Homo sapiens: one gene and its partners. The protein of the gene in region 3 purifies or fractionates together with the protein of the main gene of each other region. This does not show direct contact. Each region holds a gene or a part of one and is shown on either strand. Other genes may lie near its edges.

Region 1 (3,500 bases), on a different chromosome or scaffold from region 3:
GAAGTAGGACAGACTCGGAGGCAGAATCGAGAGGACCTGGTGATGGATGGATGTGGGGTGGTGGCAGCATCAAGTGTTTAAATCCTAAGCTTGGGACGGGCATGTGAGGTGGGAGCGTTCAGAACAGGCACGTGCCAGGTCTCACCTCACACATGACCCAGGGTTGCGGAGGCTGCTGGGAGCCGGCGGGATTGGGCCTGTGGGATCCTGTCAGGGCATAATAAGTAGACTCTTCTTTCCTGAGGTGCACCCAGACACTTCTAGGGAGGATGTGACCCCAGAGCTTTTCCCCATGTAGGGTTCTTCTCATTCTCCAGCATCCCCCTGCCTTTCCTGGGCCAAGAGTCAGCGTGGAACCCCATACGAATCCCCAGGGAGGAGAGGGCACAGAGCACCGGAACCAGCAGTAGGAATTGGAAAACCAGGCGTGGCTTCTTCCCAGAAATCTCAGGCATCAAGAGGCAGAAACCCACTCCCCAGCCTCAGCTTGGCCAGGAAGTGCTGCTGTGGGCTGGAGAGGATGGGTCTAGGCCAAGGTGAACATGCAGAGAGCTGGCTGCTCACCCTTCCTCCACCCCATAAAGTGGTCTGAGTAACAGAGCAGCTAGGCAGCGTCCAGGAGCCAGCCCTGGACAAGGTTGGGTCCCTTTGACTGTGTGACCACAGGCAGGAGACGTAACTCAGGGTGGAGCTCTGGTCACACCTCACTTACACACAGCCCTCTTGTCAGTTGCCCCAACATCTCAAGAGATCTTCAAGCTTATTTAGGTAGTTTCAAGCCTTACTTAGCACCTATTTACTCTTTCTTTGTATACAATTCAAACAAATTCCATTTGCTGACTTCTTGGCAAATTTCAAAAGAGGTGTGGAGAGTTGTACAAGACAAGCCTCTGAACCACAGAGGGTTGGGGGAATACCTTAGAACTATGGAATGCAGAAATTTAGCCATCAGGAGCCAGTCTGCACAGGGACAAACACCTCTCCTTGCCCCTGGAGAGAGCCCCAAGGGCAGACACCATTGCCCTGCAGCCCTGCTTGTAGGTCTGGTTGCTCAGGAGAGCAAAGTGAAATCTCTTCACATTTTCACCCCATAATGGGTCAGGAAAGATTGGACCCTCAGAAGGGCAAGCGCCATTTATCTGGACCGTTCCCATATCCACCCTCATTCAGAGCAGCCTGTTCTTGGTGGAGCCTGATAAACGGGGCATTACCGTTCCCAACCAGTCCTCCTCTGGGGTTAGTTTCGTCCACAGAAGAACACTTTGCATTTTGTTACTCTGTTTTTTGTCAAAATCTGCCTTCTGTCTGCCCCCAGCAGAATCAAGGGGTTCTAAGAGGAGAGCCTAACACCTTTGGTTCGATTCCTCCATTTCCTCACCAGGTATCCCTGGCACTGGCTCTGGGACAGACCATGGTGTGAATCAACTGTCTTCCTCAGGGAAGACAAACTCCTGGAGTCAGGGAAACCTGGATCTCGAAAGGTTTCAGCAATAAGGCCAGGGGTACCTTCCAGGCAGGAGTAGTAGCATCTCAAAGGCGTAGAGGGGTGGGAGATGGTGTGTAGTGAGTGCAAAGGTGTGGTAGGTAGGGAGATTGGATTGATACCTGGCAGGAGCCCCGATTTTGAGTTACGGGTTGAAGGCTTGGGGAGACTCTGTTAGTGGTCTGCACAGCCTTCAGGCCACCAGTGTGCAGTGGGGTGATTTTAGGGATGATGACACCAAGCACTGTTTCACTGATTCCCTGCAGCACTGTGAAGCAGCTCCTGCTAATGTCTGCACTTTAGAAATGGGGCCATGGAAACTCACAGATGAAATAACTTGCTCATGGTCACACTGGAAATAAGGGGTGGAGCTAGGACCTGAATTTAGTTGTGTCCAGAATCAGAGTTCAGGTTTCTATTCACTGCCCTGCATGGCGTCCTTGGAACGGACAAGCAGATCCTTAGGGCTTGCCTCTGCCCTACCAACTGTCCTCGCCCCTTGGAGCCTGGCCTCCATCAGATGCCTGCTGACTTGGGACAGGTTGTGACAGGGCAGGGGAAAAGATGGCTAGAGGCTGAGCACCCACAGCAATGGGAAGGAAGGCACCAGGAGGCAGGCCCAGCATATTTGAATAGGTGGGCATTTCTGGGACTGCAGGCTTTGGTTTGGCAAGTGTGCCTGCCCACACCTTCTTCTTCTGCTAGACCTCAGTGGGTTGGAAGGGATAGGGAGGACCAACAGCAGTGATGGAGGCTGCAGAGGCTGCATACCGCTGTGTGTGCATGAACCTGTGGCATGCACACACACGGAGGGGTGTTGGGATGGGTTGGGTTCACATGGAATTGAGTTTGAGCTGTAAGTGGTAGGGGATGAGGGGCATGTGAGTTTGTGACTGGCTAAAGCAGGAATATTTAGATTCTATGAGCACGGGTATGTGTGTGTGATGGTATACGTGCATAAGAAGCCGTTTCTGGGTAACTAGGGCCTGCACTCTGCTATACGTGTGGCTGGGTGGGTCTGGCCAGTCCCATGGCACTGAGAGTGTGGTGAGTGTGCTCAGGCAGAACGGGTGCTGCCTGCCTACCACATCCGTGGGAGCTGGCCAGGGTGGGGGCAGGGCTGGTGGGCAGGGCTGCCCTAGGACGGGCGTTTCCAGTTCCTGGAACTGCTTCCTTGTGTGGAACCTTTCCCCATACCTCCTAGCTGGGCCCTTGGGAGAGGGGAGGAGGCCGTGGGTCCTTCAAGGGGGTGCTCGCAGGCCAGACACAAGGGAGCTAGGCCTGGGGAACAGAAAGCCACAGCGTGAGTCTTTCAAGCACTTCTGAAGGGTGACATGTGTGAGTTTGTCACACCAGGCCCTCAGTGCGGTCAGGGAGTCTGTACTTCCTGGATGGCGGAACCTGTCTGTCAAGCCCTGCTTCCTCCCCAGCAAGGGGTTGGGGGGAGGGCCTGATGGCAGGAGATGGGCCCCTGGGGCTTTGAGACATGGTGAGGAGAAAAGGGGCAAGTGGGAAGACCCTTTTCCTTCTGTATTTCTCTTTTTTTTTTTTTTTTTTTGAGACATAGAGTCTCACTCTGTCACTCAGGCTGAAGTGCAGTGGCACAGTCTTGGCTCACTGCAAACTCCGTGTCCTGGGTTTAAGCAATTCTGCCTTAGCCTCCCGTGTAGCTGGGATTACATGCTTGCGCCACCACGTCCAGCTAATTTTTTTTTTATTTTTAGTAGAGATAGGGTTTCACCATGTTGGTCTGGCTGGTCTCGAACTCCTGATCTCCAGTGATCTGCTTGCCTTGATCTCCCAAAGTGCTGGGATTACAGGCGTGAGCCACCACACCTGGTCTTGTACCTCTCTGTTCTATGCCTGAACTTCCACCACTGATCACTTGCCATCATCCCAGCAAGTCACACTGAGCCTGTGAAACCACAGGGCACTGGAAACCACACGTTAGGGGAAGTGGGAGAGTTGGCGGGGCTCTCAGATGAACTCCAACCCCTTGTTTCTCGCCTGGGGAAAG
Region 2 (3,500 bases), on a different chromosome or scaffold from region 3:
ATAGAAGCTCACATATGCATTATTTGTTTTGGAAGCACTGGCAGGGTTTCATTTGAGAAAAAAATGGGAGCTTTAAAAAATTACTAAATACTACCAATTTTACTTCTTTCCCATAAGAGACTGAATCCAAGTTGGCAAATACAGTCAGGTCCTCTATAATGTTTAAACTTTAAGGCAATATGAATTTTCACTCGCGTCCGTGTGAAGAGACCACCAAACAGGCTTCGTGTGAGCAATAAAGCTTTTTAATCACCTGGATGCAGGCGGGCTGAGTCCGAAAAGAAAGTCAGCAAAGGGAGATAGGGATGGGGCCATTTCATAAGATTTGGGTAGGTAAAGGGTAAAGGGGGTTTGTTCTCTGGTGGGCAGGGGTGGGGCGTCACAGGGTGCTCAGCGGGGGAGCTTTTGAGCCAGAATGAGCCAGGAGAAGGAATTTCACAAGGTAATGTCATCAGTTAAGGCAGGAACAGGCCATTTTCAGTTCTTTTGTGGTGGAATGTCATCAGTTAAGGCAGGAACCAACCATCTGGATGTATATGTGCAGGTCACAGGGGATATGATGGCTTAGCTTGGGCTCAGAGGCCTGACATTCCTGTCTTCTTATATTAATAAGAAAAATAAAACAAAATAGTGGTAAAGTGTTGGGGTGGTGAAAATTTTTGGGGGGTGGTATGGAGAGAGAATGGGTGATGTTTCTCAGGGCTGCTTCAAGTGGGATTAGGGGCGGCGTGGGAACCTAAAGTGGGAGAGATTAAGCTGAAGGAAGATTTTGTGGTAAGGGGTGATATTGTGGGGTTGTTAGAAGAAACAATTGTCCTATATAAGTATTGGTGATGGCCTGGATACAATTTTGTATGAATTGAAAAAAGAACGGAATAAGACAAGGAGAAAAACAGGTATTAAAGGACTAAGAATTGGGAGGACCCAGGACATCCAATTAGAGAGTGCCTAAGGAGGTTCAGCATAGCCCTGCCAGCAAAGATGATTTATTTACTTTAAGAGTTGAGAGTGGCGGTTTGGGGATAGCACCAGGAGATATCAGCTGTGGTGGCTTGGAGAAACAGTGTAAACCGGCAGTGTAAACAAGAGCGGGCATGTATGAGTAGTTGAGAATGGTGAATAGGAGTATGACTAGACAGAAGATAGTAGGGATGACAAGTTTTTGGGGGCGCAGTCCAAGTTGGTCTGGTGTCTGGAATGAGACTGGGGCCTAATAAAAAGGAGCATCTATACAGGAGCTCAAATGGGCTGTATTTTGTCGCATTCCGAAGACAGGCCCGAATTCTGAGAAGGGCAAGTGGTAAAAGTATTATCCAGTCCTTTTTAAGTTGGTGGCTGAGCTTGGTGAGGTGTGTTTTTAAAAGACCAGTAGTCCGTTCTACCTTTCCTGAAGATTGAGGATGGTAAGGGATATAAATGTTTCACTGAATACCAAGAGCCCGAAAAACTGCTTGGCTGATTTGACTAATAAAGGCCGGTCCTCTATTGAACCGTATAGAGGTGGGAAGGCCAAACCAAGGAATTATGTCTGACAGAAGGGAAGATATGACCGTCGTGGCCTTCTCAGACCCTGTGGGAAAGGCCTCTACCTATCCAGTGAAAGTGTCTACCCAGACCAAGAAGTATTTTAGTTTCCTGACTCGGGGCATGTGAGTAAAGCTAATTTGCCAGTCCTGGGCAGGAGCAAAACCCCGAGCTTGATGTGTAGGGAAGGGAGGGGGCATGAGAAATTCCTGAGGAGTAGTAGAATAGCAGATGGAACACTGAGAAGTGATTTCCTTGAGGACAGATTTCCACGATGGAAAGGAAATGTTCTAAGAGGCAGGCTAGCGGCTTGTAACCTACATGGAAGAGGTTATGAAATGATGACAGAATAGAATGGGCCTGTGAGGCTGGAAGGAGATATTTTCCTTGGTCTAAGAACCATTTGCTTTGTGTGGGAAGAGATTGATAGGTGGAAGTTTCAGTGGGGGAGTAGGTGGGAGTGACCAATGCGAAGAAGAAAAACTGACCCTGAGGGACAGAAGTTGGAACACTAGTTGCTTTTTTAGCTAACTTATCAGCATAAGCATTGTCCTGAGCGATGGGATATGATACCTTTTTGATGGCCCTTGCAGTGAATGACTCCAGCTTCCTTTGGAAGTAAAGCGGCTTTGAGAAGCGTTTTTATTAAAGAAGCATTAATGATAGAGGACCCTTGTGTAGTGAGGAAACCTCTTGCATAGTGGTGCAGGATATGGAAGGCATATTTAGAGTCAGTATAAATATTGATGTGTAGTCCCTTTGCAAGAGCAAGGGCTTGACTTCAGGCAATGAGTTCGGCTTGCTGAGCGGTAGTGGAGGGGGGCAGAGTGGTAGCCTCAATGATAGATGTGGAAGATACTATAGCATAGCCTGCCTTTGCTGGTGAGTGGCAATTAGGACTGGTGGAACTGCCATCAGTAAACCAAGTGTTCAGGGTGAGGAACAGGAAAGAAGGAAATATGCGGAAATGGGGTGAATGCCCGGTGGATCAGAGAGATAGTCATGGGGGTCAGGTGTGGTATCAGGAATAATGTGGGAGGCCGGATTGAAGTCTGGGCCAGGAACAATGGTAATTGTGGGAGACGCAACAAAGAGTGAGTATAGCTGGAGGAGCCGGGGAGCAGAAAGTATATGTGTCAGGTGTGAGGAAGAAAATAGATTTTGGAAGTTATGAGAGCTGTAGAGAGTGAGTTGAGCATAGTTTGTGATTTTGAGGGCCTCTAAAAGTATTAGGGCGGCGGCAGCCACTGCACGGAGACATGATGGCTAGGCTAAAACAGTAAGGTCAAGTTGTTTGGACAAAAAGGCTACAGGACGCGATCCTGGTCCTTGTGTAAGAATTCTGACTGCACAGCCCTGCACTTCGGCTGTGTGTAATGAAAAGGGTTGGGATGAGTCAGGGAGAGCTAGGGTGGGGGGCAGTCTCTAAAGCTGTCTTGAAGGAATGGAAAGAGGAGTGGGGAAAGGATTTAGGATCTATGGGGTCAGCTAGGTTTCCTTTTGTGAGTTTATATAATGGCTTTGTTAGGATGGCGAAACCAGGTATCCAAAGTCGAAAGTATCCAACCATGCCTAGGAAGGAAAGGAGTTGTTTTGTAGAAGGTGTTGGGGTTTGAGAGATCAGTCAGACACGATTGGCAGGGAGAGCACGTGTGTTTTTATGAAGAATTATGACAAGATAGGTAACAGATGAGGAAGAAATTTGGGTTTGACTGAAGTAATGGGGGCTGTCTGTGAAGCCTTGAGGCAGTACAGAGCCAGGATGAGCCAGAAGGAGGAATTTCACAAGGTAATGTCATCAGTTAAGGCAGGAACCAGCCATCTGGATGTGTAAGTGTAGGTCACAGAGGATATGATGGCTTAGCTTGGGCTCAGAGGCCTGACACCAATCTTTTCAGACTTAGCATTTGCTAAGTCACAAACTTTTTATTATACATAAAAAGTTCAAAAGTAACTCTAGGCCGGGCACGGTGGCT
Region 3 (3,500 bases):
CACACACACATATATATAATTTTATTTTAGAGACAGGGTCTCACTCTGTCGCCCAGGCTGGAGTGCAGTGGTGCAAACATGGCTTACTGCAGCCTTGACCTCCAGCTGCCCTAAGGTTTCTGACTCACCTTTTGTGAAATCTCGGGGCCTGGGAAGCTGCCAACACCCTTCCCTTCTCCCCATGGGACCTTCTCTGTCCCCTGCCTGCCCACCTTCCCTCTTCCTCCTTGGAGCTTGGAGATTGTTCCCACCTCCACCTTTCCCCCATCGGTACCTGGAATGGGGTTTCTTTGTGGAAGGTGGAAGTTCCTTGAACCAATAAGTACATCCTCTTCTTGGCTAAAATGTGTTCCCTGCCCATGCAGGAAGCTTGTACGAAATAGAAGACATGGCCAAATTTGCTGGTGAAGGTAGAAGGAAGCCTGGGAGGTAAGTTGAAATGGAAGTCAAAGGTGTGGCTGCCTGCACTTAACCAATTATCTGAAAGCAAAACACACCGATGCCATCAGAAGGTTCTAGAATCTTTTTTCCTTCTTCTTCTTTTTTTTTTTGCTTTATTTTTATATTTATTTATTTTTGAGACACGGTCTCACTCTGTCACCCAGTCTGGAGTATAGTGGTGTGATCTCAGCTCACAGCAACCTCTGCCTCCTAGGTTCAAGCGATTCTCCTGCCTCAGCCTCCTGAGTAGCTGCGACTACAGGCGTGCACCACCACACCTGGCTAATTTTTATATTTTTGACAGAGATGGGGTTCTGTCATGTTGTCCATCCTGGTCTTGAACTCCTGGCCTCCGGCGATCCGCCCGTCTTGCCCTCCCAAAGTGCTGGGGTTACAGGCGTGAGCCACTGCACCTGGCCTTTTTTTGCTTGATTTATTGTTTTGGCATGGAGGTGGGTCCTGGGCTTGGCTTGTCTGTCCCTCCTGAGTTAAACTGAGCTCTATGCTTTTAGGACCTGCTGGGCCTATAAATATCAGGTCGCAGCTGGGCTGGAGTGGGATGCCCTGGGGTGGGTGACATGCCTGGAGTTGTCACCCGAAACCACTGAAGGGCTCTTGCATATCCCTGCCCTGAGCCTGAGAAAGTGGAAGTCAGGCCTTCAGGGTTCAACAAATATATCTTTTTTTTTCTTTTTGTAGGGACAAAGTCTGGCTCTGTTGCTTAGGCTGCAGTGCAGTGGTGTGATCATGGTCACTGCAGCCTCCAACTCCTGAGATCAAGTGATTCTCCCACCTCAGCCTCCAGAAGAGCTGGGACTACAGGCCCATGCCACCATGCCTGGCTAATTTTTAAATTTCTGGTAGAGACAGGGTCTTGCTATGTTTCCCAGGCTGGTCTTGAACTTCTGGCCACAAGCAGTCCTCCTGCCTCACTCTCCCAAAAGTGCTGGGATAATAGGCACAAACTGGCTGGGCCCAGTGGCTCACGCCTGCAATCCCAGCACTTTGGGAGGCCAAGGCGGGCGGATCACCTGAGGTCAGGAGTTTGAGACCAAGCTGGCCAAAATGGCGAAACCCAATCTCTACTAAAAATACAAAAATTAGCCGGGTGTGGTGGCACACACCTGTAGTTCCAGGTACTCAGGAGGCTGAGGTGGGAGGATAGCTTGAACGTGCGAGACGGAGGTTGCAGTGAGCCGAGATCATGCCACTGTACTCCAGCCTGGGTGACAGAGCGAGACGCCATCTCTAAAAATAAATAAATAAATAAACAAAGTAGTATGTGAGGCAGAGAAAACTTTCGCCCTCATAGAGCTTGACCTTCAGTGCATGGTATACAGTGGGTGCTTAATACATATTGATTGACCAACTGAGTGATGGTCTAGGAAGCAGACTCTCACACAACTGCCATTTCCATGACCTTTGTTTCATTTTCCTTCTTGCACTTCTCGAAAATCCTCTTAGCATTTTCTATCTTCTCTGGCCCATGGCAATCCCAAAGATACTAGGGACCCTGTCTCTTTCTTTCTTTTTTGTTTTTTTGAGACAGAATCTCACTCTGTCACCCAGGCTGGAGTGCAGTGGCGTGATCCTGGCTCACTGCAACCTCCGCCTCCTAGGTTCAAGCAATTCTCCTGCCTCAGCCTCCTGAGTAGCTGGAATTACAGGTGTGTACCACCATGCCTGGCTAATTTTTGTATTTTTAGTAGAGATGGGGTTTCACCATGTTGGCCAGGCTGGTCTCGAACTCCTGACCTCAGATAATCCACCTGCCTTGGCCTCCCAAAGGGCTGGGATTACAGGCATAAGCCATCAGGCGGGCTTGGCCTTTTTTTTTTTTTTTGAGACAGGGTCTCACTTTGTCACTCAGCCTGGACCTCTTGGGCTCAAGTGATCCTCTTGCCTCAGCGCCCCAAGTAGCTGGGACTACAGGCGCGTGTCACCACACCTGGCTAATTTTTGTATTTTTCATAGAGATGGGGTTTTGCCATGTTGGTCAGGCTGGTCTTGAACTTGTGACCTCAGGAGATCTGCCCACCCAGCCTCCCAAAGTGCTGGGACTACAGGCGTGAGCCACCGTGCCCGGCCCAGGCTGTGTTTTTTTCATCACTGCTGCATCCCCAGCACCTAGCACGGTGTTTGTGCACAGTAGGCACTCAATAAATGTTTATTAAATAAATGAAAAACCTGGAACAGGCATGGTGGCTCACACTTGTCATCCCAGCACTTTGGGAGGCCGAGGCGGGCAGATCACGAGGTCAGGAGATCGAGACCATCCTGGCAAACACGGTGAAACCCCGTCTGTAATAAACAAAATACAAAAAATTAGCTGGGCGTGGTGGCGGGTGCCTGTAGTCCCAGCTACTCGGGAGGCCAAGGCAGGAGAATGGCGTGAACCCGGGAGGCGGAGCTTGCAGTGAGCCGAGATCGCGCCACTGCACTCCAGCCTGGGCGACAGAGTGAGACTCCATCTCAAAAAAAAAATGTTTATTAAATAAATGAAAAACCTGGGATGGGCATGGTGGCTCATGCCTGTAATCCCAGCACTTTGGGAGGCTGAGGTGGGGCAGATCACCTGAGGTCAAAAGTTTGAGACCAGCCTGGCCAACATGGTGAAACCCTGTGTCTACTAAAAATACAAAAAATTAGTAGGGCATAGTGGCATGCGCCTGTAATCCCAGCTATGCAGGAGGCTGGGGCAGGAGAATTGCTTGAACCCAGGAGGTGGAGGTTGCAGTGAGCTGAGATCACGCCATGGCACTCCAGCCTGGGTGCCAGAGTAAAGACTGTCTCTTAAAAAAAGAACTAGCGGCCGGGCGCGGTGGCTCACGCCTGTAATCCCAGCACTCTGGGAGGCCGAGGCGGGTGGATCATGAGGTCAGGAGATCGAGACCATCCTGGTTAACACGGTGAAACCCCGTCTCTACAAAAAAAAAAAAAAAAAAAAAAAAATTAGCCAGGCGTGGTGGCGGGCACCTGTAGTCCCAGCTACTCAGGAGGCTGAGGCAGGAGAATGGCGAGAACCCGGGAGGCGGAGCTTGCAGTGAGCCAAGATTGCA
Region 4 (2,706 bases), on a different chromosome or scaffold from region 3:
ATGACTGTCCTGTTTCATTTCAGACATACCGGCAGATCAGGTTAAATGAGTTATTAAAGGAACATTCAAGCACAGCTAATATTATTGTCATGTAAGTAATATCTTTATAAAGATTTTCTTGCTAATTTATGATAATATGCTTTGAATTAATTTCTATTCCAAGTACATATCTATATAACACCCATATTGACTTAGTGGTTATAAGGAGGAAAAAACAAACTTGTAAAAATATACTATGCTTTAAGCATATGGAGAAAGACAAAAACTTTAACCTTATGCTTATATGAATCCCAAGTAATCTTTTTATCATAGTAGGTTATATTGGAACCTTTTGTTTACCCTTCTTCTCACCTTTTTAAAATTCCTTATCTTTGTAAACACTACAGCATAGCCGTTAAGCACGTGTGGATAGGAGGGTCCTACGTTAAAATTTGGGCCCCGGACAGCTTCCTCTTGAAAATAATTCAAAAAATGTTATTTGGCAGATTAAACTTGAATAGTGATTCCTATCTGGATCCCCATTCTTATGTTTCCAACACGCAAATTTTACATACAGACACATTGTCCTTGAGTTAAATATGATACTAAATGCCTACTTTGGCTCTTCCTCTACTGAACTAGGTTAGCTATTCTTTGAACCCACATTTTCTGAGTTCTGGAACATGTGTCCTTAGATAGGAAAGCTCAGGCCTCTCCCCCACAAAAAAAGCCAAGTAATGAAAAAAACTACCAAAAGATTGTTAGTTTAACAACATTCAATAAATCAAAAAGTTTCAAGTTTTGCTGATGATAATCAAATACCTGTAAATGGAAAAGACACCAAAACATAGAAATTTAGAGAAAAACTATACAGCAATTGGTCACTGCTGCCACCATCCATAAATAGAAATTAAAACTAAGAGAAGATAAAAATTGCATTTATCCATATATAGCTTCTGTTTTCTAAATTTTGATAGTAAACATACCTTTCACCTAAAAGAATTCTATTCTTATTAAAGAAGGGGAAACCTAGGATTTAGTGTTAGATATCAGAGGTACTGTGGTTTATAGAAATACTTACTGTTCTTATGAACAAATTTTGAAAAATCTTTTGTTGAAAGATTATAGTCTTTTATATATGCATATATGATGGTGGTACCATAAGATTATAATACCATATGTTAAGCTGGGCATGGTGGTGTGCACCTGTAGTCTCAGCTACTTGGGAGACTGAGGTGGGAGGATTGCTTGAGATCTGGAGTTTTGGAGTTTTGAGTCCAGCCTGGGCAATGTATTAAGACCCCATCTCTCTTAAAAAAATATATATATATTTTTACTGTATCTTTTCTGTATTTAGATATGCAAATGCTTACCATCGTGTTACAGTTGCCTATAGTATTCACTACAGTAACGTACTATACAGGTTTGTAGCTTAGGAGCAACAGGCTGTGTCATATAGCCTAGATGTGTAGTAGGCTATACCATCTAGGTTTGTGTAAGTACTCCTGTGATGTTTTCACGAGGGCAAAATTGCCTGACAGTAAGTTCTGAGAAATGCGTCTCCATCGCTAAGCAACACAACTGTGGTTGTTATTCTATTTGCAGAATTCTCCTGCACTCAGAAATATTCTGTAATTATAGTAATTTACAGTAACTGTTATTGTAATCTACTTTATAATTTTTGCTACATTTTATTCTGTAAATGCATTGCTCAGGGTTTTTTTTTTTTCTTTTTCTCTTTTTGATACCAGGAGTCTCCCAGTTGCACGAAAAGGTGCTGTGTCTAGTGCTCTCTACATGGCATGGTTAGAAGCTCTATCTAAGGACCTACCACCAATCCTCCTAGTTCGTGGGAATCATCAGAGTGTCCTTACCTTCTATTCATAAATGTTCTATACAGTGGACAGCCCTCCAGAATGGTACTTCAGTGCCTAGTGTAGTAACTGAAATCTTCAATGACACATTAACATCACAATGGCGAATGGTGACTTTTCTTTCACGATTTCATTAATTTGAAAGCACACAGGAAAGTTGCTCCATTGATAACGTGTATGGAGACTTCGGTTTTAGTCAATTCCATATCTCAATCTTAATGGTGATTCTTCTCTGTTGAACTGAAGTTTGTGAGAGTAGTTTTCCTTTGCTACTTGAATAGCAATAAAAGCGTGTTAACTTTTTGATTGATGAAAGAAGTACAAAAAGCCTTTAGCCTTGAGGTGCCTTCTGAAATTAACCAAATTTCATCCATATATCCTCTTTTATAAACTTATAGAATGTCAAACTTTGCCTTCAACTGTTTTTATTTCTAGTCTCTTCCACTTTAAAACAAAATGAACACTGCTTGTCTTCTTCCATTGACCATTTAGTGTTGAGTACTGTATGTGTTTTGTTAATTCTATAAAGGTATCTGTTAGATATTAAAGGTGAGAATTAGGGCAGGTTAATCAAAAATGGGGAAGGGGAAATGGTAACCAAAAAGTAACCCCATGGTAAGGTTTATATGAGTATATGTGAATATAGAGCTAGGAAAAAAAGCCCCCCCAAATACCTTTTTAACCCCTCTGATTGGCTATTATTACTATATTTATTATTATTTATTGAAACCTTAGGGAAGATTGAAGATTCATCCCATACTTCTATATACCATGCTTAAAAATCACGTCATTCTTTAAACAAAAATACTCAAGATCATTTATATTTATTTGGAGAGAAAACTGTCCTAATTTA
Region 5 (4,172 bases), on a different chromosome or scaffold from region 3:
ATGGCAATGGTGTGGTGGCTCACGCCTGTAATCCCAGCACTTTGGGAGGCCGAGGCGGGTGGATCTCCTGAGGTCGGGAGTTCGAGACTAGCTGGACCAACATGGAGAAACCCTGTCTCTACTAAAAATACAAAATTAACCGGGTGTGGTGGTGCATGCCTGTAATCCCAGCTACTTGAGAGGCTGAGGCAGGAGAATTGCTTGAACCCAGGGGGCGGAGGTTGCAATGAGCCAAGATCATGCCATTGCACTCCAGCCTGGGCAACAAGAGTGAAACTCGGTCTCAAAAAAAAAAAAGACAATGCACGCTGGTGCTGGTGCTGACAGCGCACATCAAGGTTGCTTGTACCAGTGGAGCTCGACTGGAGCAGTTTCGTCCCCCAGGGGCATTTGGCAATGACTGGAAAAGTGTGTGGTTGCCACAACTGGGGGAGGGGAGTGCCGTTGGCATCTAGCAGGCAGAGGCCAGGGATACTGCTAAAAATCCTACAGTGCACAGGATGGCCTTACGACGAGGAAGTGTCCGTCCCAGACATCGGTAGGGCTGAAGGTGAGAAAACCTGGCTTCTGAGGATGTAGGGCAGCGGAACAAAATGGAAGCGGAACTTGATACAAGGGAACCCACAGAAGTCTCGAGGCCAATGTAGGGTTGTGTTATGCACAGCTTTGCAGAGAAGAGGCCACCCCATGTACCCAGGTGTACTGTGAAAGTCCCATGACACCGAGAAAACTTGCCAGGGACTGAAAGCTTTCCATCATCAAGCCTATAATCCCAGAACTTTGGGAGGATCATTTGAGGCCAGGAGTTTGAGACCAGCCTGGGCAACATAGTGAGACTTCGTCTCTGCCAAAAATACAAACCTCAGCCGGGTGTGGTGGCGTGTGACTATAGTTCCAGCTATTCAGGAGGCTGAGGTGGGAAGATCGCTTGAACCAGGAGGCAGAGGTCGCAGTGAGCCAAGATCACAACAGTGCACTCCAGCCTGGGTGACAGAGCAAGACTCTGTCTCATAAAAACACAAACAAAAGTTCCAGCAGCCCATAATAAGTGACCAAGATGTTTTGCTTGACCAGACTTTAGTCAGGCTCCTGGGCCCATCTGTGTACCTCTTTGTAAAATCTGGTTTTAGCAAAACAAAAAACAAACAAACAAAAAAACCCACAAAACCACTCATCCTTGATATTTGATCACCATTATCTGTTCACTTGCTATCTAACCAGGTTTAATGCTTAGGTTAGGGATATCCAATCTTTCAGTTTCCCTGGGCCACACTGGAAGAACTGTCTTGGGCCACACATAAAACCCACTAACAATAACTGATAAGTGCATATATCTACATATATGGTAAAAAAAAAATCTCATGTTTTAAGAAAGCTTATGAATTTGTGTTGGATGTCATTCAAAGCCGCCTTAGGCCACATATGGCCCACGGGTTGGACGAGCTTGCCCTAGGTGATGTCTGATCACCCTGGCCTGCCTTCAGTAACAAACTGCTAGGTAAGCTTACCCAGAATCCACCCTAGCGCCCTGATGTTTCCTCAGTCATCTTCCATCCACTGATCCCCACCCTGCTTCCTGGCTTCCCACTTGCCCATGCTATAATCAGAGTTGAGCCCAATCTCTCTCCTTTACTACAAAATCCCATTGCTGTGGTCCCTATACCCATTGCAATGGTCTTCAATAATTAATGTGCTTTTAATAAGCATCATTAATTAATTTCTTTAACATAAGGTTGAGAAGATTAAATAAGGTAACCCAGGGCATTTGATCTGCTTACTGGAGGTCAGAGACAGAATAATGGGCCCAAGACAACAGAGAATGGCTCCTTGGGATCTTGTCTTAGAACAAGAGAAACTGCCCTGCTTGGAAGAAACGGAAGGTTGCTCTGCCTCCGTGATGGAGGGGTGGACAGGGACCGATTGTCTGCAGGATGGCCCCCAAGGTTCCCACTAGTATCCTAGGAATGGCTTAGTCACCTCCTGCTCAGAGCTTCTCCAACAGGCTGTTACATGGCTGCTTCCCACCCTGGCTGCCAAGCTCCAACTCTCTACTCCAAGGGCCCCGCATCCCTAGAGCCACACAAGGGTCCCTCCGTACCCCCACAAGCTGGGGAGATTCCAACTGCCTCATCTGGACAGGCTTCGAAGTCCTGTCTGTGTCTCAGAGCCCAGAGGCCCTTGTGCGAAGGGGCAGCTTGAGCCTGGGCAAGAAGTTCCTGTGGGCCAGAAGGTGACCTGTCCTGTGCTGGCCACCTACATGGCCTGGGAACAGTTATCAGCTCACTGTCCTGGAAAAGCCCAGATGGGTGTGGTCAGAATACAAGAAGGAAAACCCCCTCCACACACACTTCAGTGTCTACCCCAGACTCGCCTCCTCCGTGGAGGCACCCCTCCCTTTCCGCGTCTACACAGGCTCTGAATCCCCCTTCAACACGGCTGGCCTTGGCCCTGGGGGAAGCACCTCGCCACCCTCTTACCTTGACCACATAAACAGCGGGAGGTGCAGGATGATTCTGATCCCCCCCAGGAGACCCTCCCTCCATCCCGCCCCGCTGTCCCCACCCCTCACCTCCCCGCAGCCTTCACCTCTCCCTCCCCCGACCCGAGGGCCTGAAGAGGCGTGGGAGGCCAGGGAGGGGCAGGGCCCAGGCCTACTCTGGACCCGTCTGCTCCAGTCCCCCGACTCAGCTGGGCCTGCGCCTCTGGGTCAGCTCACTGCGAACCTCAGCCCAGGTACCTACCCTGCCGGGCTTCCTGGTGCTGTCCGGTCCGGTCCAGCAGCCCACGGGCTCCTCTCGAGAGCCGCCCCTTCCCTGTTGCCAGGCAACATTGCTGAGGGGCAGTCATTTGGTCCAATCGTGGAAGCGGAGGTGTGGGGCGGAACCCAAGAGAGGAGTCAGCCAATGGTGACGCGCCTCACAGGGAGTGAGCCGAACCCGGTGGGTGCGGCTCGGGGCGGGGCCGCGGTCTGCGGGAGGAGCGGCTGCAGGCCCGGGAATCCGGCCCGGCTGCGTGCGTACCAAGGAGGCGCCTGGAGAGGGCGGCCAATGACTCAGGCCAGGCCAGGCCAGCAGTGGTACCTGGGGAGAAGGGGTGTCTGGGCTGGGCGCTGGAGCGGAGTAGCCAGGGTGTGGGAGATCCTGGGGGAGAGGCTGAGCTTGGGGGTGAAGACACCCGGGGGAGGAGAGTGGCCCATGTGGAGCCCATGCAGAGGCCTCTGCAGTGCAGCCTCCTGGGCCCCAGGCAACTCTCCCCTGACTCCCCGGCCTGCTGGTCCTGGCCTAGAGCCTCGGGTCCGCCTCCCCTCGGGCCTCCCTCTGCCAGCTGCCCCTGCCTCGCTCTTCCCTGGCACCAGGTCCTTCCCGGCAGCCATCAGGCGCCAGCTCCACAGCCTGGCTAAACAGACTCCCTCCACCCCACGTGCGCCTCTTCAGCCGGTTCCCGTTCACTCCAAGACGTCTGAACCTGTCACCCCACTTCTTCAGCTCGTTCCTTCTCAAACCCACCGAAACCTGGTCCCGGGGGCCTGCTCACTACATCCGAGGTGCGCTTTGGGTCCTCGCAGGCAGCATTTGGCGCTTGGTGATCGTGCTCTCATCAGACCTCTCTCTTGGGCACCCCGGCGCCCATTCCTGGCCCTGGCTCGCTCGCTGTCCCTGGTGGTCTTCCCTGGGCCCTTCTGGCTTCTGCCCTGGAGTTTCTCGACTTCTCCCTACTCTCTCCACCCCACGCATCCTCCCTGGGGTCCACCTTCCTGCAGATTCAGCTCCCGCATGTCCATGGTACCAGTTCTCTCCCCTGCACGGCCTGCTGGTTTTCCAGCCTGGAAAACCGTGACTTCGCCCGCCAACGTCCGCTTGAGTTGGTCTCGAACTCCTGACCTCAGGTGATCTGCCTGCCTCGGCCTCCCACAGTGCTAGAATTGTAGGGGTTAGCCACTGCACCCGGCTGGTCACCTCTTATTCTTTAAGCTGGAACAAAAATAGAAGGCTTTCTGCCTGAGGGCAGCAGGCCTGGCTGGTGACAGTGCACAAGGTAGGGCCCCTCACCAAGACATTGCTCTGAGATCCAAGGCCAATGTCCCAGGAGAAGCAGCTCCACAAACTAACGCATCTACAGCCAGGGTACCCCCAGCTGTGGATGCCAATGACACGAGTAGCCCCAGCTCTTCA
Region 6 (4,218 bases), on a different chromosome or scaffold from region 3:
TACTTTGAATAATACTAACTGTACCACAAAGACACCATAAGAGAATTTTCTTAGTGTCAAGTAACTTTAACATTGTGTGCCAAAAAGAAAAACAAAAAAGGATATTCCAATCTTTTTATTTTCAGCCTACTTTCCCAATAGAAAAGATCAAGCTTCTGTCAACTTTCTGATTTTTCCATCTTCTCAAGTAGTGAAAATATTTTGTCATAAGGAGTCACACTTTTTTTTAATTAAAAAGAAATTACTAGAACATAGGCATTGTTTCTGTAATAAAAGGACTTTTTTGTGAGACATTAGTTGAAAATCGGGATTCATATAACGAATTAAATATGCTTATAACTCCAACCTGTCCTTAGGATTTGCTTGTCAATTTCCCCAAATTTGTCCTAGTTATCTGCATTTTAAAATAAACCCATTGCTGAAAGTCGTGGTGATTCAATCCATTAAGCCACTGGAAGTATAATCTAAACTAGCTTTTACCTGAGTTGAATAATTTCTGGTGCAGTAATCAGAATAGCTGTCTATGACTGGGATAGCAAAATATACTTTCATTACTCTGTATCCAGGGTCCTTGATGTTTAATTTATGTGATCATACAAACTTAACCAGAGACACAAAGTCCTACATTGGCCCAAGTATGATTACATACTTAGAGGATCTGATAACTTAAAACCAGTGAGGTGAGCAACTAAATGTCAGAGATAGCATTTTTTATGCACAGGAACTTGTTCAACTCGTTAACCATCCCTGTTAAGACGGCTGCCTTGTAAAATAACCACACACAACTTCCGGCCCTTCCTTTTAGCTGGGTTCATTTGAAGCCATTTTAAAAAACATTACCAGGTTTTCTGTCTTGAAGATGAGCATGGTTATACAACCAGGATTTTATTCTGGCTAAAAAATACCTAACAGTGAGAAAGGATGTCTCAATACATTTTTAAAAAAGCTTCAAGAGAACCACTTTAAAATGATCTTCCTACCACACAAAAACACCATCAGGTAAATCAGCCCTCTATACAAGAAGATTTGGCAAATCAAAAGCATAAGATCAAATCTGTAATAATTAACTTTCTGAGTAAAATTACTGTGCTACAGCTTACTGCAACAAAGCCAAAGTATTACAAGATGGTATTATAATGACATCATTAGCTTGGTTTCCTAATAAAGCATATATCTGGGATATCTGAATTTACAATGCTAAAAACAGAGACCCAACATTTGTAGGAGGGAGTGGTAGGCAGTTCTTATTTATAATTTTTTTTTTTTTTTGAGAATGATGCCCGCTGCAAAACGAAGTAACAGAAGGCTGGCTCTGAAACACCACACTTCTTGGTCTTAACGTTAAAATGCTTTTCTAGAGCAGAAGGGAAAAAGAGTTATCAGTGCTTTCGTCCCACAAAAATAGTTCCTGTTTCACTAAATTTTACCACTGCCTTTAGAATTAGTAAATGAAAACGCCAACTTGTAGAAGCATTAAGTTAATGCGATTTAGAAATTAAATAGTAACCGGCCTCATCACACAGATAAGGTTAGGCTTCTTCAGCCAGGGGCAATTTCTGTCCTAATTGTCACAGCTGCCTTAATGCTGTACTTTCTGCGCTGTAGCTGCCAGGAGGCAGATAAGATTTTTCTCTCTGAATTAATTCTGGGAAAGGTGGCACTTTTTATAGGCCTTAAATGACCCTTTTCTAAGATTTTTTGTTGGTGGTGTCCAGATGTTCCAATAATACTGGAGAGTTAACTATTCCTTCCAAACCTGTGTCGTTCAAACTGCCTTGAGGAGAACGGGAAAAAAGTAAGGTTCACACTCGAAAAGTTTCACTCGGGGTGGGGTGAGGACGAGGTAGGAAGGAAACGACAGTACGTATCGTTCGTAACTATCGTACAATACGTATCGTTTCCGAAGCTAGACCGGCAGCTGGCACAGTCTTTCCCCTTTCCAGGTCCTGGGGAGAAACGTCTCTCGCTGAGGGGGCTAGACACCTACGACAGCCTCCTCCTCGGGAATCAACACAGCTCTGGATCGTGACACGCTTCCAGAAGTCCGTGACGAGTGGGGGCAGAAGACAGGTTCTTCGCTTCCCCTTCACCCAAACACGTCCCAAATTGTTCGAGGCAGGAAGAGCACGCCTCTCTCATCTCCCCAAGACCTACTCTCGCTCAGCTCCCTCGCCCTGTTTCCTCTGGGGGCACCGCCACCCCGCTCGGGACTCCCGCCTCTGGCCACAGCAGCCCCGGAGCGGCAAGGGGGAAGAAGTAACGGAGAAGCGCCGGCTAGAAGCGGCCGCCTCCGGCCGCTCGGCGCCAGCCTCGGCGGCCCGGGCTTGGAGGCGAGACGAGCCCGGGAGCCGCACGGGGCTTCTCCGGCTCTGGGCCCCGCGCCCGTCTCCGCTGCGGCCTAGCCGGGCGCCCACGCCCTGGCCTCCCGGCTCCGCGCCGCCGGCCTTTCCCCGCCACCCCGGGCCGAGAGGCCCCGCGGGGGCGGACGAATGGAGGTGGAGGGGCGGGGGCACCTACCAGCTGCTGCCGGATCCAGCGCCACATTCCCCCGTCGTCGCCGTCCGGGTCCCGCGGGGCGCGGGGGCCGCGGGGCTGCAGGTGGAGGCCGACAAGACAGAGGCGGGAGCGGGCGAGCCCCTCGGGCCGAAGTTCCGCTTACCGCCGCCGCCGCCACTGCCTCACTCCCCGCGCCGCGTCCCCATCCCGCGGCGTCGGCCCCGAGTCCTACAGGCGCGGCCCCGGCGCCGCCCCCGCCCGGCGCAGCTGAGCCTGCCGCCGCGCCGCAGCCACCTTCATTATTGACCGTTGTCACCCAAAGCACCCCCGCAACCCCACCCCCGCCCCGCCCCGCCCGGCCCCCCGGCTCCACCCGGGACCGCCCCCGGCGCCCCGGCCCGCCCCCGGACGTGACGAAAGGGGGTGCGCGGACCGAGGGGGGCCTGGCGCGCCCCGCCGCCGTTCCGAGTTGGGGGGTTTCTGTGTTGTGGGTCCGGGAAGAAGCGAGCGTGGAAAGGTGCCGGGTTCTCGAACGCTGTTTCTGTCCACTGCCACCCTCCTCCCCGTTCTGGGAGTGGGATTAAGTCGTGTCTGTGGGTCTGGCCATCTCCGGAGTCTGCAGCTTGGGGCCGATTCCTCGGTCTCTACCTCCTGTTGCAGGTCTTTTTCGGGCTCTGTGGCTTCTTTGGTTCACGCGTCTCCCGACACGCATACGCACAGTCCTGAACGTATGTGACTGAAAGTTAATCCCCCCAGAAGTCCCAGTTTGGGTTCCATCAAGCTGTAAGAGCTTTCGTCTCAACACAAGTCAGGCCTCTTCTTTAGCAAATGGCTGAGACGGGGCTAGGGAAATCTTGATCACACCCATTAAGTGATTCGAAAGCGTTGCAAGTCCCCTGAGCCTGGTACAGCCTGGACCCGTGTTTCTAGGCGAATGGATGAGATATTCTGTCTTGCCGTGTGCTAAATTGGACAGGTTCAGGGGAAGATAATTTGTATAAAAAGGTAGTTCTTTACTGCTAACTGCCAAACTTCTGCAATCAAAAACACCCGTAGCAGTAACTTGACCTAGGTTAAAAAAGTGTGTGGATGACAAGCTCAGAAGGAATATACAAGCAACTGGAACAAGGCTTTGACTTAAAGGTTTGGCGTTGTTTAAAAGCAGCCCCGTATACATATTGTGTTATGTATATGTATTGAATGCTGTATTTTTGCTGAATTAAAGCACACTTCACCGACAGACGTTTGTGGTTAAAAAAAAAAAAATTAAGCGGCCGGGCGCGGTGGCTCACGCCTGTAATCCCATGTAATCCCAGCACTTTGGGAGGCCGAGGCGGGTGGATCACGAGGTCAGGAGATCGAGACCTTCCTGGCTAACATGGCGAAACCCCATCTCTACTAAAAAATACAAAACATTAGCCGAGCGTGGTGGCGGTCGCCTGTAGTCCCAGCTACTCGGGAGGCTGAGGCAGGAGAATGACGTGAACCCGGGAGGCAGAGCTTGCAGTGAGCCGAGATGGCGCCACTGCACTCCAGCCTGGGCGGCAGAAGGAGACTCCGTCTCAAAAAAAAAAAAAAAAAAAAAAAATTAAGCAAGAACAAATCTAAATGAGATTAGCATGACTAGGCAGGTCGTTGAATATGCATCCTCAATCTTCTAGTTTCAGTAGACATTTCTTACTATATAATGCTTATCCAGCACCACAAATAGAATCTTTCTTT
Region 7 (3,500 bases), on a different chromosome or scaffold from region 3:
CCTCCCTTGTTTAAGACTTTAAACAGATTTATATTACTCTTAGATGAAGCCCAAGCCCCTTAGCATAGAAAACTTTGTCATTTATGATGTGGCTTACTATGTCTCATCTCTTAAAAGTCTCCTCCATTTTCCTCTAAAGACAAATCACACTGATTTCAGTTTCTGCAATTTCTTACACATTCTAAACTCCTCACCATAGGGCCTTTGTACATGCTGCCCTCACATTCACATACACCCTCACATACACCCTCACATACACCCTCAAGCCAACCCACACATCCCATCCCTCCCATTTCCCATCCTGGCTTTCTCCTCGTCATAATTTTTGCACTCAATATTACTTCTTCTAGGATACATATAAACTATTCAGTGTGGCTTTTATACAAATAATCTATATAAGTTGTACACTGCTTTTTCATTTTGTCCCCAAACCACCAAAACATTGGTAGATGGTCCATTTATAAGGAAGATGATGATAACATCTTGTTCATTTTGAGATAGGAAGAGATTATTTGCACTTTGAAATCACCTTTTTATTTTTCTACAAAAATATTTAATAGGCTAACTGCACAAAATTCAGTTGAATATGAATGGATATAGATGCCAGATGCCTATACTGGGGAAAAATATGTTAGAGAGATCCTACTTTATTTCCCATTGTTTATTAGCTGTGTGACATTGGGCAATTTATAACAACAAGACAACAAAAAAACACCTCTGAGCTTCAATTTTCTAAATTCCTTATACATTATAGAGTCCTGTTAATTAAACCTTCATTATAATAGATACTGACAGGGATAGGTATTTCTGTCCATCTTAGAACTACAGGATCTTCTGTGAAAAAAAAAATTCAGAGCAAAAAACATTTTCATTATTAACATATAAACAAGTCTTCTATAAAATAAACTTTTTCAAACAGATTTTGCAATTGGATTTCTAGTTTCAGCACTGACCTGCTGCTATTGACAAGCCACTCTGTCCCTTTACTCCATGAAAACTTTGGTTTCGGTGCAGCTTTAGGTTTGCATTCAATTATCACCCTTCCACCTTTAGCAGCCAGGATCTTTTTCTTCATAGGATTCATTTCAAAAGTTGGAGCCAACGCTAAAAAGAAAACAAATTGTTATCTTTCTCTTTCTGTTTGTAAAGCCTAAACATTGCTTCTGTGTTGTAGAATCTTTTATTCTCCTTAATAGTTAATGGAAAGGATTAATCTCGGTAAATATGATCAGCTGTCACCAATAGGCATTCTATACCTAATGCTTTGTAACTTTTATTTAATAACTTTGACTTATAAAATTCACCCAATTCAAATGTACAATTCTTGATGATAACTGAATTGATTATTAGAAACTTTAATTAGAATCCAGGCATGGGTGGCTCACACCTATAATCCCAGCAGTTTCAGAGGCTGAGGTGGGCAGATGGCTTACCCAGGAGTTTGAGAGCAGACTGGGTAACACGGCAAAACTCCATCTCTACCTAAAATACAAAAAAATTAGCTGGGCATGTTGGTGCATGCCTGTAGTCCCAGCTATCCAGGAGGCTGAGGTGGAGGATCACCTGAACCTAGAAGGTCAAGGCTGCAGTGAAGCGTGATCGCCTCACTGCACTCCAGGCTGGGCAACACCGTGAGACCCTGTCTCAATAAATAAATAACTTCAATTTCAATCAAATGTTTTATACACATTTACCTTAAAATTAACTCTGAATTCTGTTGCTTTGACTCAATTCCACAAGGAAAGTAAAGTGAAAGGCTGGAAAAAATTGACCAGCATTATACACACTGACATATGGTCCTAGTCAATCCTCTAAACCACATGTTGAATGAACTATTCCCAGTTTATAAATGAGAAAATTGAAATCTATTAGGATTATTTAATTTGGCAAAGGTACCACAGGTAGTAATAAGTGGGAGTCACATTTGAATCTAGGTCCTTCTGTTTCCAAAGCATGTACTTTTCATTAAACAATGCAGTCTCTCCTTCTTTATACAATTACTGAGCATCATCTGTATGCAAACACCCTGCAAAATGCCAAAATAATTGGAGTCCTGCTTTCAGGATCTATCTATAAACAGCTATGGGAATAATGGATCTAATCAACTAATTAAGGAGACATGATCATTTGTAGTTCATCATTACCTCCAAGTACAGAGCAATAATTATTAGAACAGAATACAGAGGCTTAAAAAAGGTTACTTCATTGATGTCATGCTCAGACTTTCCTCAGCATCCACACATTTAATCCACTGCTCACTCTCCTCTTCCCTTGGCAGACTCCAAGCAGATTTCATCCATATATTTCAACACATTACAATCATCCGTAACTATGTACTTTCTGGAGGCTTTTCTAGGCCTAAGCATATCTTCATCTGGGTTTTGACTCTTCATCCTCTGGTCTGGTCATTCTCAAAATTATCTTTGTATTAAAATCATCTGGGTATCTTTTTAAAGTGTCCATTCAGTAGGTCTGGGGTGAGCCTGGGATTCTGCACTTCTAATGTGCTCCTAGGTATGGCCACTGCTGCTGATGCTCTGAAGAAGACTTTTGTTGTGGCAAAGATTCATTCTATTCCATTGTTTCGTTAGTCTGAATTATGATAATTAGCAATAAATAAATCAGTAAACAACCAACATATGTTGTACACCTAACACAATACTGGGTATTTTGTGTAGGCTCAATAAACATTTTGTGTGATATGACATATTGCTTTAACAATGTTTAACAGAAATTAGAAATGATACTGACCCAAGATCTTCAACTCAGCATTTGCATAAATGGCTCCATATGTGTTTTCAGCTATGCACTGATACATTCCGGCATTTTCAAAAGTCACATCATACAGTCTTAATTCCCCTTTATGATACTGAAAAGAATAAAATTGAAACATATTCTCAATGAACTTTAATAGAAATACTTTCACTTAGGTCTGGGTTTGGTTGTCTTTTCATTTAGATACATTATGTTCATCTGCCCCCACTGTTACCTAAGATGAACTGAGTGGGATTTTCATGGCATGGGAAAGGAAAACCCACTTACCATGCCCAAAGGCTCTTGTTCTATTCATCCTACAGAGCTGAGAGTCCACCTTTTCCCCTCTTGGACCAGCTGGGAGATTACAGTGGGAAGGTAGAGAAGAATCCCACTGCTGCTACTTGTCCCCAGGGCCAAAGGTAGGACTTAGAGCTTCACTCTTACCTCTGTCTCTGTGGGGTACAGGAAAATAGTGGCAAGAAAAAGAGGACAATATCAGGTATTGGAGATGGATGAGTAGGAAGAGGGTGGAAAAGTGGAACAAAGGAAAAAAATAAGGAGAGAGAGAGAGAGAAGGTAGAGTAAGATTACAGAAAGTTGTTTAAACTGAAAGAAGATACTTTATGTTCAGTTTTTGTCTTTTTTAGGAAGCTTTTATATTTCAGGGCCCAAGTGCCCTTTCTGTATTGTCTCTCCTGCTAAATTTATCCCAGGACTACCCTGAAACACTGCTTGAACAGGGA

What was found.
Region 1: the proteins of ARRDC5 (region 3) and SLC2A1 purify together in Homo sapiens (affinity purification with mass spectrometry; one large-scale study listed by BioGRID and IntAct). This does not show direct contact.
Region 2: the proteins of ARRDC5 (region 3) and ABCG2 purify together in Homo sapiens (affinity purification with mass spectrometry; one large-scale study listed by BioGRID and IntAct). This does not show direct contact.
Region 4: the proteins of ARRDC5 (region 3) and SLC12A2 purify together in Homo sapiens (affinity purification with mass spectrometry; one large-scale study listed by BioGRID and IntAct). This does not show direct contact.
Region 5: the proteins of ARRDC5 (region 3) and MEAK7 purify together in Homo sapiens (affinity purification with mass spectrometry; one large-scale study listed by BioGRID and IntAct). This does not show direct contact.
Region 6: the proteins of ARRDC5 (region 3) and ATP11B purify together in Homo sapiens (affinity purification with mass spectrometry; one large-scale study listed by BioGRID and IntAct). This does not show direct contact.
Region 7: the proteins of ARRDC5 (region 3) and CNTN1 purify together in Homo sapiens (affinity purification with mass spectrometry; one large-scale study listed by BioGRID and IntAct). This does not show direct contact.

The regions. Positions count from the first base shown.
Region 1 is NC_000001.11:42,931,369-42,934,868, reverse strand, and holds part of SLC2A1 (solute carrier family 2, facilitated glucose transporter member 1), read left to right. Parts: intron 1-3,500. UniProt on the Homo sapiens protein: Facilitative glucose transporter, which is responsible for constitutive or basal glucose uptake. Has a very broad substrate specificity; can transport a wide range of aldoses including both pentoses and hexoses.
Region 2 is NC_000004.12:88,152,140-88,155,639, forward strand, and holds part of ABCG2 (broad substrate specificity ATP-binding cassette transporter ABCG2), read right to left. Parts: intron 1-3,500.
Region 3 is NC_000019.10:4,896,397-4,899,896, forward strand, and holds part of ARRDC5 (arrestin domain-containing protein 5), read right to left. Parts: intron 1,690-3,500; coding exon of another isoform or gene 1,566-1,689; intron 481-1,565; coding exon 275-480; intron 1-274. UniProt on the Homo sapiens protein: Plays an essential role in spermatogenesis. May be involved in the anchoring of the sperm head to the tail during spermatogenesis by affecting SEC22A-mediated SUN5 and NDC1 transport and localization.
Region 4 is NC_000005.10:128,184,766-128,187,471, forward strand, and holds part of SLC12A2 (solute carrier family 12 member 2), read left to right. Parts: exon of another isoform or gene 1-23; coding exon 24-91; intron 92-1,730; coding exon 1,731-1,866; 3' UTR 1,867-2,706. UniProt on the Homo sapiens protein: Cation-chloride cotransporter which mediates the electroneutral transport of chloride, potassium and/or sodium ions across the membrane. Plays a vital role in the regulation of ionic balance and cell volume.
Region 5 is NC_000016.10:84,501,860-84,506,031, forward strand, and holds the start of MEAK7 (MTOR-associated protein MEAK7), read right to left. Parts: upstream 2,801-4,172; 5' UTR 2,742-2,800; exon of another isoform or gene 2,570-2,741; intron 2,289-2,569; exon of another isoform or gene 2,099-2,288; intron 900-2,098; exon of another isoform or gene 862-899; intron 1-861. UniProt on the Homo sapiens protein: Activates an alternative mTOR signaling through RPS6KB2 activation and EIF4EBP1 repression to regulate cell proliferation and migration. Recruits MTOR at the lysosome, essential for MTOR signaling at the lysosome.
Region 6 is NC_000003.12:182,792,086-182,796,303, reverse strand, and holds the start of ATP11B (phospholipid-transporting ATPase IF), read right to left. Parts: upstream 2,801-4,218; 5' UTR 2,545-2,800; coding exon 2,518-2,544; intron 1-2,517. UniProt on the Homo sapiens protein: Catalytic component of a P4-ATPase flippase complex which catalyzes the hydrolysis of ATP coupled to the transport of aminophospholipids, phosphatidylserines (PS) and phosphatidylethanolamines (PE), from the outer to the inner leaflet of intracellular membranes.
Region 7 is NC_000012.12:40,936,939-40,940,438, reverse strand, and holds part of CNTN1 (contactin-1 isoform 1 precursor), read right to left. Parts: intron 2,870-3,500; coding exon 2,752-2,869; intron 1,105-2,751; coding exon 954-1,104; intron 1-953. UniProt on the Homo sapiens protein: Contactins mediate cell surface interactions during nervous system development.